4 separate regions of the Homo sapiens genome follow, and regions 1, 3 and 4 are each linked to region 2. The links come from fine-mapping of genetic effects on gene expression. A gene starts in region 2. Each other region holds a variant in brackets. All regions are shown on one strand. Distances are from middle to middle.

Region 1 (4,000 bases), 190 kb before region 2:
AATACTATCCAGCCATAAAAAAGAATGAAACCCTGTCATTTGTAGCAACGTAAATAAAACTGGAGGTCATTATGTTAAGTTAAATAAGCCAGGCACTGAAAGACAAATATCCTATGTTCCTTTTTTTTTTTTTTTTTTTGAGACGGGGTCTTGCTCTGTTGCCCAGGCTGGAGTGCAGTGGCACGATCTCAGCTCACTGCAAGCTCCGCCTCCCAGGTTCATGCCATTCTCCTGCCTCAGCCTCCCGAGTAGCTGGGACTACAGGCACCCGCCACCACGCCTGGCTAATTTTTTGTATTTTTAGTAGAGACGGTGTTTCACCGTGTTAGCCAGGATGGTCTCAATCTCCTGACCTCGTGATCCACCCCCCTCGGCCTCCCAAAGTGCTGGGATTACAGGCGTGAGCCACCGCGCCTGGCCCTTATGTTCTTACTCACACATGAGAGCTAAAAAAGCAGATCTCACAGAGGTAGAGAGTAGAATGGTGGTTACTAGTGGCAGTGTGGAGGATGGTATTGAAGAGAGGTAGATTAATGGGTATAAACATATAGTTAGAAGAAATAAGTTCTAGAGTTCAATAGCACAGTATTGAACTCTACAGTTAACAACAATACGTTTTATATTTCAAAATAGCCAGAAGATTTGAAATGTTCCCAATAGAAAGAAATGCTAAATGTTCAAGGTGACTGGTATCTTAAATACCCTGATTTGATGATTACACATATTTCATGCATGTATCAAAATATCACATGCACCCCATAAATGTGTATGAAAGTATGTAAAATTATTCTGTATCCATTTTTTAGGTAACAAAAAAGAAATTGCCACAGCTAACCCAACCTTCAGCCACCACCACCCTGATGAGTCAGCAGCCATCAACATCAAGGCAAGACTCTCCACCAGCAAAAAGGTTATGACTCACTGAAGGCTCAGATGATCATCAGCATTTTTTGGCAATAATGTATTTTTTAATTAAGGTATGTGGATTTTTTGACATAATGCTCTCACAACTTAATGGACTACACTATAGTATAAACATAACATTCAAACATACTGGGAAGCCGAAAAACTCGTGACTCACTTTTTTGCTTATGTAACAAAAACCCAATCTGAGCAGAAACAGAGTCCATTATAAAGGCACAGAGCTGTTTTATGCAAGCCAATAGGAGGAATGAAACCAGATCCCAAGGAGTTATGTAAATCAATCAGGATGTAAATTAAATACTCAGAAGAGGTCATCAGCAAGATAGTTTAATGACGAGACTACAGAAATGTGTACAGGTTAACAGATCCCAAAAGGTATGATGAGGCACCAAAAGCAAGCAAGAGTAGAAAACTAATATTATGTCTTAGCTTAAAAGGTCAAGTGGAGAGAATGTCACCATAGTCTAACAAGAGCCACAGCCATGAAAGAGGGCCCACCCAACAGGCACTGTGGCTGCTGAAAAATGAAGCCACTGCCAAAAATGCAGTGGAGCAGAGGAAGCAGAGGAAATAAACACTTCGACTGCTTTATTCTGTCATTCCCTTAATCTCCTGTGGGTGCACCTACTGTCCAAACCTAACCAGAAGCCAGAA[G/A]GTAAAGGAGCCCAGATCCACAGAAGGCAGCCTCCCAAGGCACACAGCAAAACAGAACAGAGGAGAATGGATCAGCAAGGGGAGAAGGGTGTAAAGGAGAGAAAAATCAGCACAAAATGGAAACATGTTACCACTCTGTAACAATCCAAAAATCACTAATTCAGTGCACAGTCCTTTCGCAGGAACACATTCCCTGGAATACACAAAGTATGCATCTATACAGAAAATTAGGAAGATAAAGATAAAAAAGGATGGTTAATAAAAGAATAAAAATTAAAATTTTAATAGAAAATTCTGTAGGCTTAGTAATAACTTCTGAGTTGCTTTGTTACCAACTATTTTACTTTAAAACTCAAACGAGACATGACCACATTATTCTTAGCTTTTCTAATTCAACTCTGAAGAAATATTTAAAATAATATTGAGGCATATGCTATACTGCGACAATATTTAACAATTTTTAAAGATCCTAACACCATTAAACACCACTGATACATCTCAATAATAAAAAAGTACCAGTGCAAAGGAAAATTTTCTCCTCCAAAGCTGTAACAAATATAATTGAAACTGGATACCTGCACCTACTTTTATGACACTTTTATATCTTTTGATTTGTCCATGATAACAAATTATGATTATGATACAGTAATGCTTTTGGGAAAAGTTTACATAAAAACAAAGATAGTTACACATTAATTTCATAAAAGCTAAAAACACAGAGACTTAAAACATAGACAATAGCAAAGCACACTACATTTCTAATAGCTTACCAACTGAGAAATCTACAGATCCACAAGGCAAAATATGAACCTTGATGAGGTCCTTCCAAGTTTTCAAGGACAAAAACTTCCTGAACTTAAGAGCTCTCTAAAGAACTTATTTGCCAAATTGCTGTTAGATTCCTTTTAAAAATGTTTTCTTAAATTTCTCAATTTTTAAGAGTGAGAAATTTAATTTTATGTGCCTTTTGAAGAATAGAATTGTGTTAGAAGACCACCAAATAATTCAGGGCTGAAAGCAGGGCAAAAGAAAACTGAGGTAGAAAAGTATTTATGTCAAAGCTACTATAGCACACATAATAACATAAACACAAAACACTAAGAAAGTAGAAATAGTGAACAGAATTCATTAGCCAGCCATTGCTTTTGCTAGTTCTCAAAATATGTCTACCTAATTAATATATAATTTTATAGCTCTTTATCATATGAAGTGGGCTAATAACTACAACTAAAATATTCTACCTAAGCATTCTTATCTGGACAGTATATGTATATGGTAGTAGGAAATGAAAACCAGCTTAGAAAACCGGCTTGGAAAGTATAGAACATGCGCTATGCTACAGCCTGTGTCCTACATAACCTTTTAAATGCATGACCTTTAAGTTGCTGAAGGTTGCCTCAGAATTTGGCTCAGTTTGATCGAAACATCTGTTCCCCTTGCAGGTATACTGTAAGGACTTTTTTCTCAGTTGGATTCAGAACACAGCAAGTGAGCCCTTGTCTGTCCAATCACACACACCCCAACACTTGTAAATCAAGTTCTGGGAGGACAACAGCAGGTCCATATTCCGTCACCCTTTCTCAGCCAGCTAGGCCAACTGACTGCTGTGAGAACTGCTCTTATCATGTCATCAAATCAAAACATGTTGAGATGAGGGACTACAAGAGGCATCTGCAGAATTCCCAAAATGTAGTGACTTTGGAACATTGACAGATGCATCTGTCATTTTATACCTTCAACTAACCTGATGTCCACTGGCCCGACACAGTAAAGCTGTCCAAGATCGATTCCAATTCTTTCACGTTATTTTCACATGTCTCTACTAGGAAGGCCTGGTGCTTCTTAGCCTTTTAATTAAGAAAAAAATTACACATAAGGTCACGTATTATAAGAGCTGCATATTTTTAGTGTGAACATATATAACACAAGTATAAACAAGATAATGATTCCATTCAAATATATTATTAATAAACCATCTTTCTCTCTTAATCATACCTTTTACTTGGCTTAATGTAACACTGTACAAGGTCTTATTAACAATTTACTGAGGAGTTAGTGCCTGGCACTATTCTAAGTGTTTTATATATAGTAATTCATTTTATCCTCACAATAACCCTATGATGGAAAGGCTATTATTATCCCAATTTTAGAGACAAGAAAACTGAGACAGAGGAATTATGGAACACTTAAAAAATCATGACTACAGTCATATGGCAAGTTGCCAGATGGCAGTCAAAAGTGAAGACAGTTAAGACCAATTTGAAGTTACTGCAGCAGTCAAGTGACAGTACTTTGGTCTAGGGTATTGACAGTGAAAGGGGAAGAAGGGGTAGGGAATGGAAGCACTGGACAGAGACTAAGATGGTAGAATGGCCAGACTTTAGTAAAACTGCATTGGGTTAGACCACACTGATTGGACTGG
Region 2 (4,396 bases):
AGTTTTTTAGGACCAGAAGGAGTTAAACAGAATGGTCTCGTGCTGGGGACAAGCTGGGGAATGGCATGGTGTGGAGGGAGGTTGTTAGGAAATTTGAAGCTGGGAATACTTTCAAGCCCAAAGGTGGAAGGTGGAAGAGTAAGTACTGGGCTGCTTTTCCTTCCAGCATCTTTTCTAATTATAAGCCACTCCTCCTTCAGCCTTGCTGCCTCCCTGCCCCACCTAGAGGCGATGTGGGATCACAAAAATGGCATGGGCAAGTAGCCAGAGGGGCTAGAATGTTGCCTCAGCCCCTGGACTAGATGTGTGATCTTGGGCAAGCTAGCTGCTTACCTTCTGTGAGCTTATTTTCTCATCTGTGAAATGGGGATAGTGGCACTTGGGTTAAATGAGATAATGTAGGCCAAGTTCCTGCCTCAACTCATTTGGATTTTCCTGCCCCCTCCCCTTGCTTCAGTTGTTTTGGAAATTACACTCTTTCTCCTTATAACTTTCCCATTGCTCCTCTGATCTCCATTTTGGTATACTTTTTCAAGTATCCCCACTAAGAAGGCTGACTATGGGAGAGGGCTGCACCAAGCATAGCTGGAAAAGAGCACAGAAAAGCTCTCCCAAGTGGCTAGGATGTGCCCAGCTTTCCTTCCCCGTTCCCTGCCCTCCCCTCCCCTCCCCTCCCCCCCCCTTTCCTCGCAGATTCAGAACTGTTGCTCCCAGGGATCCTGGGCTTTTGTTCTCTGGAAGCTTAAACCACCACCTGTTTTGCCTTTATTGTTTAAAGGGTATCTCCTGTTGTTCACAAACTACCACAGGTTGAAGCGGACAAAACTTAAAGGCAGCAGGAGCTAAGTATGGTACTTCCTTTTTTTAAAACAACAAAAACAACAGAAAATACTAATAGTAAAACATCAATGCTTTTCCATTTTCCCTTTTTTATTTCTTTTCTGAGGTCCCCTCTAACACTAACTACCCCCTCTTTACCTGTTAATCCTACCATTAGTACTAATAAAAAGTTATCTTTAACGTTAATTATAACTTGTTATATATCTGTTTTTCTTAGTTTGAAGTTTTTACAGTCTGAGGTATCCTCTAAAGCAGTTTCTCAAACTTGAATATGCGTAAGAATCACCTAGGGATCCTGTTAAAACGCAGATTATGATTTAGAAGGCCTGGGGAAGGTCTGAGCTTTACCTGAGCTCCCAGGTAAAGCCCTTGCTGCTGGGCCTTGGACCACACTTGAAGTAGCAAGGCCTTACAGGGTTTAGAACAAATAAAGTGCATACACACAAAAAAATGATTGCTGGATGCTGCTTTGGTCTCTCTTACTCTGTATCTTGAGCTTTTCTTCAATACATCTTTTTCCACCTTTTCCTATGCATAATTTATAGCCAACACCTGACAATCATTCCTTTGTGTAATTACTTAGTTGTGCTCTTCCTTCCCTTTTCTTAGTCACCATTCTCACTGAGAAATGCGTCATTTCATGAGTACTCCAGTTACCCCCAGCCTCTTTCTACTAACATCTACCTTGAAACATCAAGAACTGGTTAAATAATCATTTTTACCCCCTTCTTGCTGAGCAACCTATAGTAGCTTCCTACTACACACATTAAATTCATATTCAGAATGAGAAGCTTCAAGACATTTCACCAACCCTTCCTTCTCCTCTGCCAATTTCTCTTTTTGCTCCACTTGGAACTCTCTGCATATTGCCCAGGTATACTTAGTTTCTCGAAACTCCTTACAGGACATTTTACTTTGGGACTGTCTTCTTTCATTCCTTTTTAAAGACATGCTGTATCGCTTTCAAAAAATTCTCAATTTTTACCAATTCAAAAAAAATTTCCTAATTCATTTCCAGTTGAGTCCCGTATTTAAAACAGTATTATCTAGGTGCTAATATATGTCTTATTATTCTTATTTTTATATGTCTTAACATTCTTTTTAAAAATATTTTCAGCCTCTCTAAAGGATCAAAAAATTAACCTTTAAAATCCCTTGAAGAGCATTTTAAGAGAGAAAATATTTGAGGTTTAGTAACACTTACACATTGTACCACCTACCAGCTCCTATTCTACTAGGGAAATAAAATTTAGATGCAGCTAAAATTTAGTTAGGGCCCAAACTCACATCCTATCTAAAAGGTTTCTGTTTTCCTGTCATTGTTTTCTACCCTTCGCATTTTGCATTCAGTAGGGTTGCATTTTTCTTAATAGTTCTTGGTGATGCAAATGCAAAAGAAATGAAATAGGGCTCTCTCATACTACAATTTCAAGGAAAAGGAGACTACGAGGCCCATTCAGCGAGGTGCAAGAGGCCTAGATGCAGCACACCCTGCAACCGCCGCATGCTCCAATTTCATCTTAGGGTTTTCGTACAGCTCCTCTTTTTTGGATGATGCAAACCGCGCAAAAGCAGCATTCAAACCTCCCCACCCTGGAAACGATACAAGAACATGAATCTTTACTGCCACTTTCTCCCTAACACGCAGCCAAGGGAGAGAGGCCCGGATACCCGCCCCCAAAACCGCGTCCACAACAATCATTTCCTCCCTCCCCGCCTTTTACATACAGTACACATACAAATACACACACGCAGAGAAGCCAGCAGGGGCGGGCCGGGCCCGACCACTCCGCAAACCGCAGGGGGAACTTGCGGCAGGCCGAGCTATTTTCGCCCAGTCCTTTCTTCTTCGCTTGCGTCTTCCTCTCCATCTGCATGCACCTGTTACATGAAAGCGAACTTGGGGACGTAGGGTTTCCAGAAAATCCGCTTCGGAGCCACACAGCTTCGCCGGGTGCTGCAACATCCCCCCTCTCTCGGTAAACAGTTGGTCGCGCCCCAGTGCTAGCGGGCGCCGAGCGGGAGCCGCGCGGGAGCAGCGCAGCTACGGCGGCGGCAGCGGCGGCGCGGTTGCGATTCCGAGCCGTTGAGACGCCTCTGCGGCAGCTGGTGGCGCAGGTGGCTTGCGTGGACGCGGGTAGAGGCGACCGGCCAGCAACCGCAGCGTCGGCGCCCGCGGCCCCGGCAGGTGAGCGGGCGACGGGGACTCGCCCCGCCCCCCCCTCGGTGGCGTCGCTCCTGGCTGTAGCGGGGAAGTGGACGCGGCCCGCCCGGGAGCCGAGGGGGCCGAGGCTGCAGCCGCTGGGCAGCAGGTTGCGGGGGAGGCCTTGCGTGGGCGGAAGGGGGCCGCTCGCTTCTCGGAATCCCTGCCTTTTTCTCTCCCATGCACCCCCTCCCTTTTGGGGCTTAAGCTCGGTGGAAAAAGCCCGGAGAAAGATGGGGCGGGCAGACGGGCGATTTCTGGCCGGGCAGCATCCCTGCTTCAGGTGGTGGCGTCTCTTCGGTGGCGGGGTGGAGGACCTGCTCCAGCGCGGAGGCAGCGCACTGGCGGGGGAGGAGCGGGAGGCGGCCGTCCCCTCGCTCTCCCACCCCCACCCGCCGGTTCCCCTCCCCCTCCCCTTGCGGCCCCTCCCTTCGGGGTTCTTCGCTTTAACCGCCCTCGGTGCTCTCCCTAGCAGGCGCGTCGGGACGCCCCGAGGCATCCTCCCCCGCCCGCGGGCCCGGTAGCTGGGCCCGCGTCCGCCGCCCGCATCCCCGCGCCGCCGCATCTCCTCGCCGCCTCCCGGGCTTCGGACCCCCGGTCTCGCCCCCGAAACATGACTCGCGATTTCAAACCTGGAGACCTCATCTTCGCCAAGATGAAAGGTTATCCCCATTGGCCAGCTCGAGTAAGTGATTTGTAGCCCTCGCGCTTAGCAGTGCTACCCTCCTCTCCAGAGGCCTGCTGCCCACCGTGTCTCTTTATTTTTTCTTCTGTCCTTTCTCTCCCTCGCTTTAGTCTCATTTGTAACCTGACCTTTCATTTTAGTTTTTTGCCCAATAATCTCCCGTGTAATTATGAAAATCCAGACGTTTCTACATACCTGTGTATTTCCCTATGGTTTATTGGCAGACTTGGACAGATTTTCTTCCTAGGAAATATTTAAATGCGTTGCTAGTTAATATTCCATTGTAGGTGAAATAATGAAGAGTGAATTTTTGTTTAAAAATTAGTGAAACATTGACATTTCCATAGTTTTGGATCAAGTACAAAATATCAATGGAATTTGTGCAGATTACACACAAACACTTGGATGTCAGAGAAGTGCGTATGTGATTAAATTGGATTTACAGGGTTTTAAAAAAAATACCTTGTACTTGATGAGGCCTTCTGGATTTGCTTGTTTAATACAGATTCAGGACTGGATATTCTTGAAAGTATTACAGTAGTTTAGTACCGAGGAAGGGCCAGAAAATTCATTTCTCCTTTTTTATTTGAGATGTTTATGACCTTGAAGAAGTTGTTTTACCTTTTTGTTTCCAATAGGCAAAAAGGAGGTGTGGACCAGATTCCTCA
Region 3 (4,000 bases), 22 kb after region 2:
CCCTGTGAAGAGGTGCCTTCTGCCATGATTGTAAGTTTCTTGGGGCCTCCCCAGCCGTGTGGAACTGTGAGTCAATTAAACTTCTTTTCTTTATAAATTACCCAGTCTCTGGTATTTCTTCATAGCAGCGTGAGAATGGACTAACACACCTATAGTGGTTCAACTTAGATTTTTTGACTTTAGAGTGGGTTTTTCATGGTTACTTAAATGGATTTCTGACTTCAGATATTTTAGATTTACAGTGGACTTATTGGGACATAACCTCCTAGTAAATTAAGAACTATCTGTGTATATATGTACACACATATGCAAACAGTTGAGGCTCGTTATTTGTGGATTCCATATTTGCGAATGTACCTACTCACCAAAATTATTTGTAAGCCCAGATCAGTAGTACTTGTTGTACAGGTCATTCACAAACATGCACTGAGTAGTGGAAAGACTTGAGTCTCCTGATACAACACATTCTTAGCTGAGGTTGTACAAGGGAATGCTTGCCTTCTTTTTTCAGCACTCATACTGTAAGCAAGTATCTTTTTTGCAGTCTGTTTATTGCCATGCATTTTTTTGCTTTTGTTGGTCATTTTGCTATTTAAACTAGCTCCCAAGCATAATGCTAAAGTGTTCTTTCATGTTGCTAAGTGCGAGAAGGTTATAATGTGCTTTACAGAGAAAGCGCATGTTACATACGCTGTTGGCTATGAGTTCAGTGTTAATGAGTTAGCAGTCTGTATTAAATAAGGTGTCTTTAAACAGAAACACACATAAAATGAATTTATGTATTGATTGGTTCATGAAAACCTTGTGATTACAGGAACCTAACCCTGTATTTCCCCTAGGAGCAATGGTTGTGTATTTGCTAATTCAGTTTTCACAGTGACTTTATAGAACATTACTACCACAGATAGCAAAAATTGATAGTACATATATGAATGAATGGGTTATAATATGTCTGATTCCCTCATTCAGTAAAATAAAATTCTTAACATACTCACTGATTATTTTAAAAACACGATAGTTTTGTGAGTTGTATAATATACGAAGTTATTTTGAAGTGAAACTATATTTGGGGTGCAGTTAAATGTGTTGATTAATGCTAATGTGTCAAAGTTTGTAGTTTAAAAAAACCCAAATTTATTGAATTAACCTTTTTTTTTTTTTTTTTTTTTTTGAGACAGAGTCTCACTCTGTCACCCAGGCTGGAGTGCAGTGGCGTGATCACAGCTCACTGCAACCTCCGCCTCCCGGGTTCAAGCGATTCTCCTGCCTCATCCTCTCAAGTAGCTGGGACTACAGGTGCACGCCACCACGCCCGGCTAATTTTTGTATTTTTAGTAGAGATGGGGTTTCACCATGTTGGCCAGGCTGGTCTCAAACTCCTGACCTCAAGTGATCCACCCGCCTCAGCTTCCCAAAGTGGTGAGATTACAGGCGTAAGGCACCACGCATGGCGATGTAACCATTTTTAAGTGTATAGTTCAGCAGTGTTAAGTACATTCACATTGTGCAACGTCTGTGGTTTTACTTAATAGGATTATGGATTTAAATAGTAGCTTGTTACTGAATTTAATAAAAGTATTTGGAATTATTAATTGCCCTTTAACTTATTTAAGATTTGTAATGCAGTTTAGGTTCTGTATTTTTGATAATTGTGTAATAGGGTGTCTTATCTAATAAATTATGTATTTGAGCTTGCTTTGCACTCACATCTTCCCCACTTCTTTTTTAGTGCTTTTTTAGGACCAAAGGATATATTTCCTTACTCAGAAAATAAGGAAAAGTATGGCAAACCAAATAAAAGAAAAGGTTTTAATGAAGGTTTATGGGAGATAGATAACAATCCAAAAGTGAAATTTTCAAGTCAACAGGTAAGTCATATTACATAAAATTTGATATTACTTATTTAATCCTGGGGAATAATCACTATCCTAGCTGTAGGAAAGTAAATACTAAAAGCCTTGGGAATTTCATACTAGTTTGTTGTGTTCTTATTTGTGAGGTTGAACCTTGGGCATTTTATATCAAAATGAATTGACAAAATCATTATTTTATGTAGTTAAACAGATCTCAAGAAACTGGGAACTATTCAGTTATTTAACTCCTGATAGAGGGTTTAATACGTCATTGAATATAAAGCTGTATGTACTGTTCTAAATTTAGGTTTTGCGACTTACATGGTGTATGCCTAAGTTTTCTTATTCTCTTTAATTAATTAATTAAATTTCTTTTTTTTTTTTTTTTTTTTGAGGTGTAGTTTCGCTCTTGTTGCCCAGGCTGGAGTGCAATGGTGC[A/C]ATCTTGGCTCACTGCAACTTATGCCTCCCGGGTTCAAGTGATTGTCCTGCCTCAGCCTCCCAAGTAGCTGGGTTACAGGTGCCCGCCACCACGCCTGGCTAACTTTTTGTATTTTTACTAGAGACAGGGTTTTGTCATGTTGGCCAGACTGATCTCAAACTCCTGACTTCAGGTGATCCACCCACCTCAGCCTCCCAAAATGCTGGGATTACAGATGAGAGCCATTGCGCGCAGCCTTTAATTTCTAAATCCATAGAATTGTATTGGAATATGAACCTCATGAGTTAAATTGGTATGTGACAAATGTACTTACAGCACTATGCAAATTATATTTATTGGTGTCAGCAGCCACCTTATACCTTCTTTTCTGTGGTTTTTCCCATGGGTCCAGAGCTTTTATTAATTTATATGTTATAGTAAATTTTCATGGAGTGGTTTGCCTTTATCCAATTTGTATTGTTTTTATCCTACAGAAAACACTGGTTCTCTTACTTCTCCTTTGTGTTGGTATTGATGTGATTTAGAAAAAATTTATTTTTTTTGAGAGGAGTCTCGCTCTGTCGCCCAGGCTGGGGTGCATTGGCTCTATCTTGGCTCACTGTAAGCTCCGCCTCCCGGGTTCACACCATTCTCCTGCCTCAGCCTTCCGAGTAGCTGGGACTACAGGTGCCCGCCACCACACCCGGCTAATTTTTTGTATTTTTAGTAGAGACGGGGTTTCACCGTGTTAGCCAGGATGGTCTCGATCTCCTGACCTTGTGATCCGCCCGCCTCGGCCCCCCAGAGTGTTGGGATTACAGGCCTGAGCCACTGTGTCCAGCCTAATTTTTTGTATTTTTAGTAGAGACGGGGTTTCACCTTGTTAGCCAGGATGGTCTCAATCTTCTGACCTTGTGATCTGCCCACCTCGGCTTCCCAAAGTGCTGGGATTATAGGCTTAGAAAAATTTTTTATATTGTCGATTGCACTCTTGAATTGTTGCATATATTCCCAAATGAATGTTCCAGAACTCTTACGATTTAAAATAAACAGATGGCTTTATAATAGGATCAGAGGGCTATGAGAGGTCTTTATGAAGATAATTGGGACAGTTTCTCTTTCATCAATAAACGTCCTCTGTTTAAGACCTGAGGTCCAAAAACTAGGAAGAGCACGAGTAAATCTAAAGAAGCGAGGTAGCAACAAAGTGGAAATTCTGCAGCTTTTTACTCTTTTTTTTGTTGTTGTTGTTGAGATGGAGTCTCACTCTGTCACCCCGGCTGGAGTGCAGTGGCGTGATCTCGGCTCACTGAAGCCTCTGCCCCCCAGGTCAAGCAATTCTCCTGCCTCAGCCTCCTGAGTAGCTGGGATTACGTGTGCGCTTTGCCACCGTGCCTGGGTAATTTTTGTATTTTTAGTAGAGATGGGGTTTCACCATCTTGGCCAGGCCAGTCTTGAACTCCTGACCTCGTGATCCACCCACCTCAGCCTCCCAAAGTGCTGGGATTACAGGCATAAGTCACTGTGCCCGGCCTAGCTTTTTACTTTTAAACCGATAAATTTTATTTCTTCACATGTGCCATGCTTTACCTTGGAGAACTTTTTAGATACTGTTCTATCTGGAACATATAAATCTTTCATTGCTGCTCCAAGGCCACATTAAATGATTAGTGACTTTATTACTTCCCAGTACTTACTTGTTAATGGATTCATCGAACCATATCATAAT
Region 4 (4,000 bases), 29 kb after region 2:
TGGCTCACTGCAACCTCCACCTCCCGAATTCAAACAATTCTCTTGCCTCGGCCTCCCAAGTAGCTGGGATTACAGGCATGCACCACCATGCCCAGCTAATTTTTGTATTTTTTTGTTTTGTTTTTGTTTTTGTTTTGAGACGGATTCTCACACTGTTGCCCCAGCTGAAGTGCAGTGGCGCCATCTCGGCTCACTGCAACCTTCACCTCCCAGGTTCACGTGATTCTCCTGCCTCAGCCCCCCGATTAGCTGGGATTACGGGTGCACACCACCATGCACACCTAATTTTTTTGTATTTTTAGGAGAGATGAGGTTTTACCATGTTGGCCAGGCTGGTCTTGAACTCCTGGCCTCAAGTGATCCACCCACCTCGGCCTCCCAAAGTGCTGGTGTGAGCCACCACGCCCAGCTAATTTTTGTATTTTTAGTAGAGATGGGGTCTCACCATGTTGGCCAGGCTTATCTCGAACTCCTGACCTCAGGTGATCTGCCCATCTCAGCCTCCTGAAGCTCTGGGATTACAGGTGTGAGCCACCGGGCCTGGCCTATATATATATATTTTTTTTTTTGATAGACATGGGGTTTTGCTATGTTGCCTAGGCTGATCTCTAACTCCCAGCCTCGGTGATCCTCCCAAAGCACTAGGATTGCAGATGTGAGCCTCTGTACACAACTTGATGCCTCTTTTTTCTTTTTTTTTTTAAATATAAATTTGTTTTTTTTTTTTTTTGGATACAGAGTTTCATTCTGTCACCCAGACTGGAGTGCAGTGGCATGATCTTAGCTCACTGCAACCTCCACCTCCCGGGTTCAAGCGATTCTCCTGCCTCACTCAGCCTCCTGAGTAGCTGGGATTACAGACGTGCACCACCACGCCTGGCTAATTTTTGTATTTTTAGTAGAGATGGGGTTTCACCATGGTGGCCAGGCTGGTCTCAAACTCCTGGCCTCAAGTGATCTGCTCACCTCTGCCTCCCAAAGTGCTGGGATTACAGGCATCCGCCACCATACCCAGCTAATTTTTTGTATATTTAGTAAAGACAGGGTTTCACTATGTTGGTCAGCCAGGTCTTGAACTCCTCACCTTGTGATCCGCCTTCCTTAGCCTCCCAAAGAATGCGTCATTTTTTTAAAGCAGTGTGAACGATGGGGATTGGATTGGGGCAGTGAGACCAGTTCACTGTAAAATTCATTCAGAATTTTAGTACTAACTTTACTGGACTTGGCATGGATTTGAGTAGTCAGTAAAGAAGACAAGGTCTTTGTTTCCATTGAACTTACATTTTTTTTTAGACAAAAAATAAATATTTAAAATAAGAGGGTTTAAATGGGGAGTTAATGAGTTGGCAACAGACTAGGCTACAAAAGGCCTTTCTAAGGAGTTGGCATGAGACTGGAAGGACAAGGATCTTATAGATTTTTTAAGTGGTGTAGACGAGAGATGGGATTTAAGAGCACTTTAAGAGGTTAAGTTGATGGTTGATGAGAAGTGGATGGTAAAGGGGGCGGGGGAGGGAACTAGAATCTAAGGTGGCTCTAAGGTCTTTACTTGAATAAGCTAGTTATTGGGAGTGCAGAGGATGTTGGTTTGGAATCATAGGCATGAGTAAGGGGAAGGTGAAGCACCTGTGGGAACTGGAGTGAAGAGATATATATATTGTTCTGGCACCAAAGAGGGAGAAGATGTAAGTTACAGATGCAGTCTCTGGCATGAAGATAGGGTAATAGATGAGGTCAAAGGAGAACGGTTTATTGAGAGGATGCAGAAACCAGAATCCTGAAGGAATATAATGGAGAGGGGGAAAGGTTGCTCTGTGAAATTATGGCTGAGAATGAACTGTCAAGAGAAAATCTAAGAGGGTATCAAGCTAAACAAGGGAAGGG[G/A]GAATGTCCAGAATGAAGAAGTGGTCAGTAATGTCCTGATTTAGAGAGGGTACCAGTAAGATACTTGCCACATAGGCTGCTCTAGGATACTTTCAGGTGAACTCCATTTAGTTGAATGGTAAGGACAGAAACTAGATTAAGGGGTTAGAGAATAAATGTTAATGGTAAAGTTACACTGTGCTTTTTAAATCTTTGAAGGCAAGGAGAATGTGGCAACATAATAGGGATTTTCATAGCTAAGGGAAAGTGTTAAAATGACAAAAGACAGTAAATGCCTTAACACTTTTTCTCTGCAAAATTAGGAAAGATCAAAGATGTGGAGTCAGTATAAATTATTTTATGTAAATACATGTTGGATGAGAGAATGGAGGGGACATTTGAAGGAACTGACTTAACAAGGAGGAGATGGATGTTTCAGTCTCTTAACACTGAAGGGGAGGGATGGAGGAGGCTCTGAAAATTTCTTGGGACACTAGGAAATTAAGGGAATTCCTTTCTACAGCCCTTACTCCCTTCTGCCCCATCCACATCAAAGCAAGACTTTGGATGTGGTACAAGTCGGGAAGAATAGATTGAGTAAATTATGCAGCTGTTGGTGGGAGGAGGAGGCCTGATCAGATAGGGTAAAGTGACTTTGAGATCTCAACTGAGATTGCATAAAATGAATGCATGTTTGTACATTTTTTTTTTCCCAGCAGGCTTCAGCAGCTGGGAATAATAGAACAGAGAAGGTAGAATTGTATAGTAACCTCTCTTGAGGATTTGTGGGACAGATACAGCAAAACAAGGATGTGGAGGACTTATGAATACATTTGAATAGTAATCCCATGAGGTTTTTGTGTGTGTGTGAAGTGGTGTGTTTTTAGTTAAGATCAAGGAAGCTGGTAGAGCTAGAAAGGGGTAAAAAATGAAGAGAAAATGAGGGTTAGATGTCTCAGAGCAAGTAAAATATGGAAGAAATAAATCTGTAGTCAGTAGTTTAAGATATTAGCATTTAAGATGTTTAAATATTTAAGCATATCCTAAGAGTGGAAAAGTTTTAAATATATATGTTTCGTATAACTTCATTGGTCCTTTCTTTAGATAAAATATTTATTATTCTTTGATTTTATTTTCATGAGGAATGGTTCTGACTTGCATGATTTTGCCATAATAGTCATGAACACACGTGCATGGTAGGGCTGATCTCTTAGTATTAGTGTTAATATAGTTTTAATTATTATTGATGAACTTGTTACACTTATTGGTACCTCCTTAAAAACCATCTCTTTTACCTATAATTCTTTGTTTTTTTTGAGACGGAGTCTTGCTCTGTTGCCCAGGCTGGAGTGTGGTAGCAGGATGTCAGCTCACTGCAATCTCTGCCTCCTGGGTTCAAGTGATTCTCCTGCCTTAGCCTCTTGAGTGGCTGGGATTACAGGTGCCTGACTTATTTTTGTATTTTTAATAGAGATGGGGTTTCACCATGTTGGCCAGGCTGGTCTCGAACTCCTGACCTCGTGATCTGCTAGCCCCAGCCTCCCAAAGCGCTGAGTGGGAATTACAGGCATGGGCCACTGCACCCAACCCTACCTATAATTCTTATTCAGTGTTTTGATTTATTTCCAAAAGCAGAAAGTGTAAGTGGAGAGAGTCTTCTTTGCACCAAAGAATTGACCAGTTATAACTGAATTTTAGACAAATTATGCCCTCTTAACTCCTCAGTAGGAAAAGAGCTCTCAGTCTTGAGTTCTTAAGCTTTGTTACCTGGGGAGCTTTATAAAAACACAGAATCCTGGTTCCCTGACTCAGAGCTATTGAATCAGGATTGGGGCAGGGCAACTTTGTAAGTTCTTAAAATTCTAGAAATAAAACCTGAGCTAATAATGTTCAGGGAGGAATTTTCAGTGTTCTCTGAGAACAACTCAAGGGTTACCTTAGATGAGTTTTAATAATACTTTTAATATGCTTCATTATGTTTCAGTTATTTAAAGAAATGTTTAAAAAACTAATAAAGAAATGGATACATTCGTAGAAGTGGAATTGCCATATAAAGGTTTTTTGTTTTGTTTTGTTTTTTTGAGACAGTCTTGCTCTGTCGCCCAGGCTGGAATGCAGTGGCATGAATTTCAGTTCA

What was found. PIP is the estimated chance that this variant, and not a neighbour inherited with it, causes the effect. A credible set is the group of variants that fine-mapping cannot tell apart.
Region 1: its variant is the best candidate, but not a certain one, in a credible set for the expression of PSIP1 in whole blood (TOPMed, PIP 0.62).
Region 3: its variant is the best candidate, but not a certain one, in a credible set for the expression of PSIP1 in whole blood (TOPMed, PIP 0.54).
Region 4: its variant is the best candidate, but not a certain one, in a credible set for the expression of PSIP1 in whole blood (INTERVAL, PIP 0.53).

The regions. Positions count from the first base shown.
Region 1 is chr9:15,694,660-15,698,659 of GRCh38, reverse strand. It overlaps CCDC171 (coiled-coil domain containing 171), which reads right to left. Exons shown (of 26, transcript NM_173550.4): 11 at 3,323-3,425. Among named protein-coding and RNA genes, the nearest start is that of CCDC171, 140 kb to the right of the region's middle. The variant G/A (reference allele first, on the strand shown) is at 1,579.
Region 2 is chr9:15,509,449-15,513,844 of GRCh38, reverse strand. It overlaps PSIP1 (PC4 and SRSF1 interacting protein 1), which reads left to right and starts at 2,875. Exons shown (of 16, transcript NM_033222.5): 1 at 2,875-3,028; 2 at 3,516-3,728. The coding sequence starts at 3,657. RefSeq lists enhancers at 585-1,203, 1,856-2,808, 2,809-3,762 and silencers at 2,890-2,969, 2,990-3,199, 3,210-3,269, 3,400-3,449, 3,550-3,749.
Region 3 is chr9:15,487,854-15,491,853 of GRCh38, reverse strand. It overlaps PSIP1 (PC4 and SRSF1 interacting protein 1), which reads left to right. Exons shown (of 16, transcript NM_033222.5): 4 at 1,730-1,868. Among named protein-coding and RNA genes, the nearest start is that of PSIP1, 21 kb to the left of the region's middle. The variant A/C (reference allele first, on the strand shown) is at 2,292.
Region 4 is chr9:15,480,863-15,484,862 of GRCh38, reverse strand. All of the region lies in intron 6 of PSIP1 (PC4 and SRSF1 interacting protein 1), which reads left to right. Among named protein-coding and RNA genes, the nearest start is that of PSIP1, 28 kb to the left of the region's middle. The variant G/A (reference allele first, on the strand shown) is at 1,885.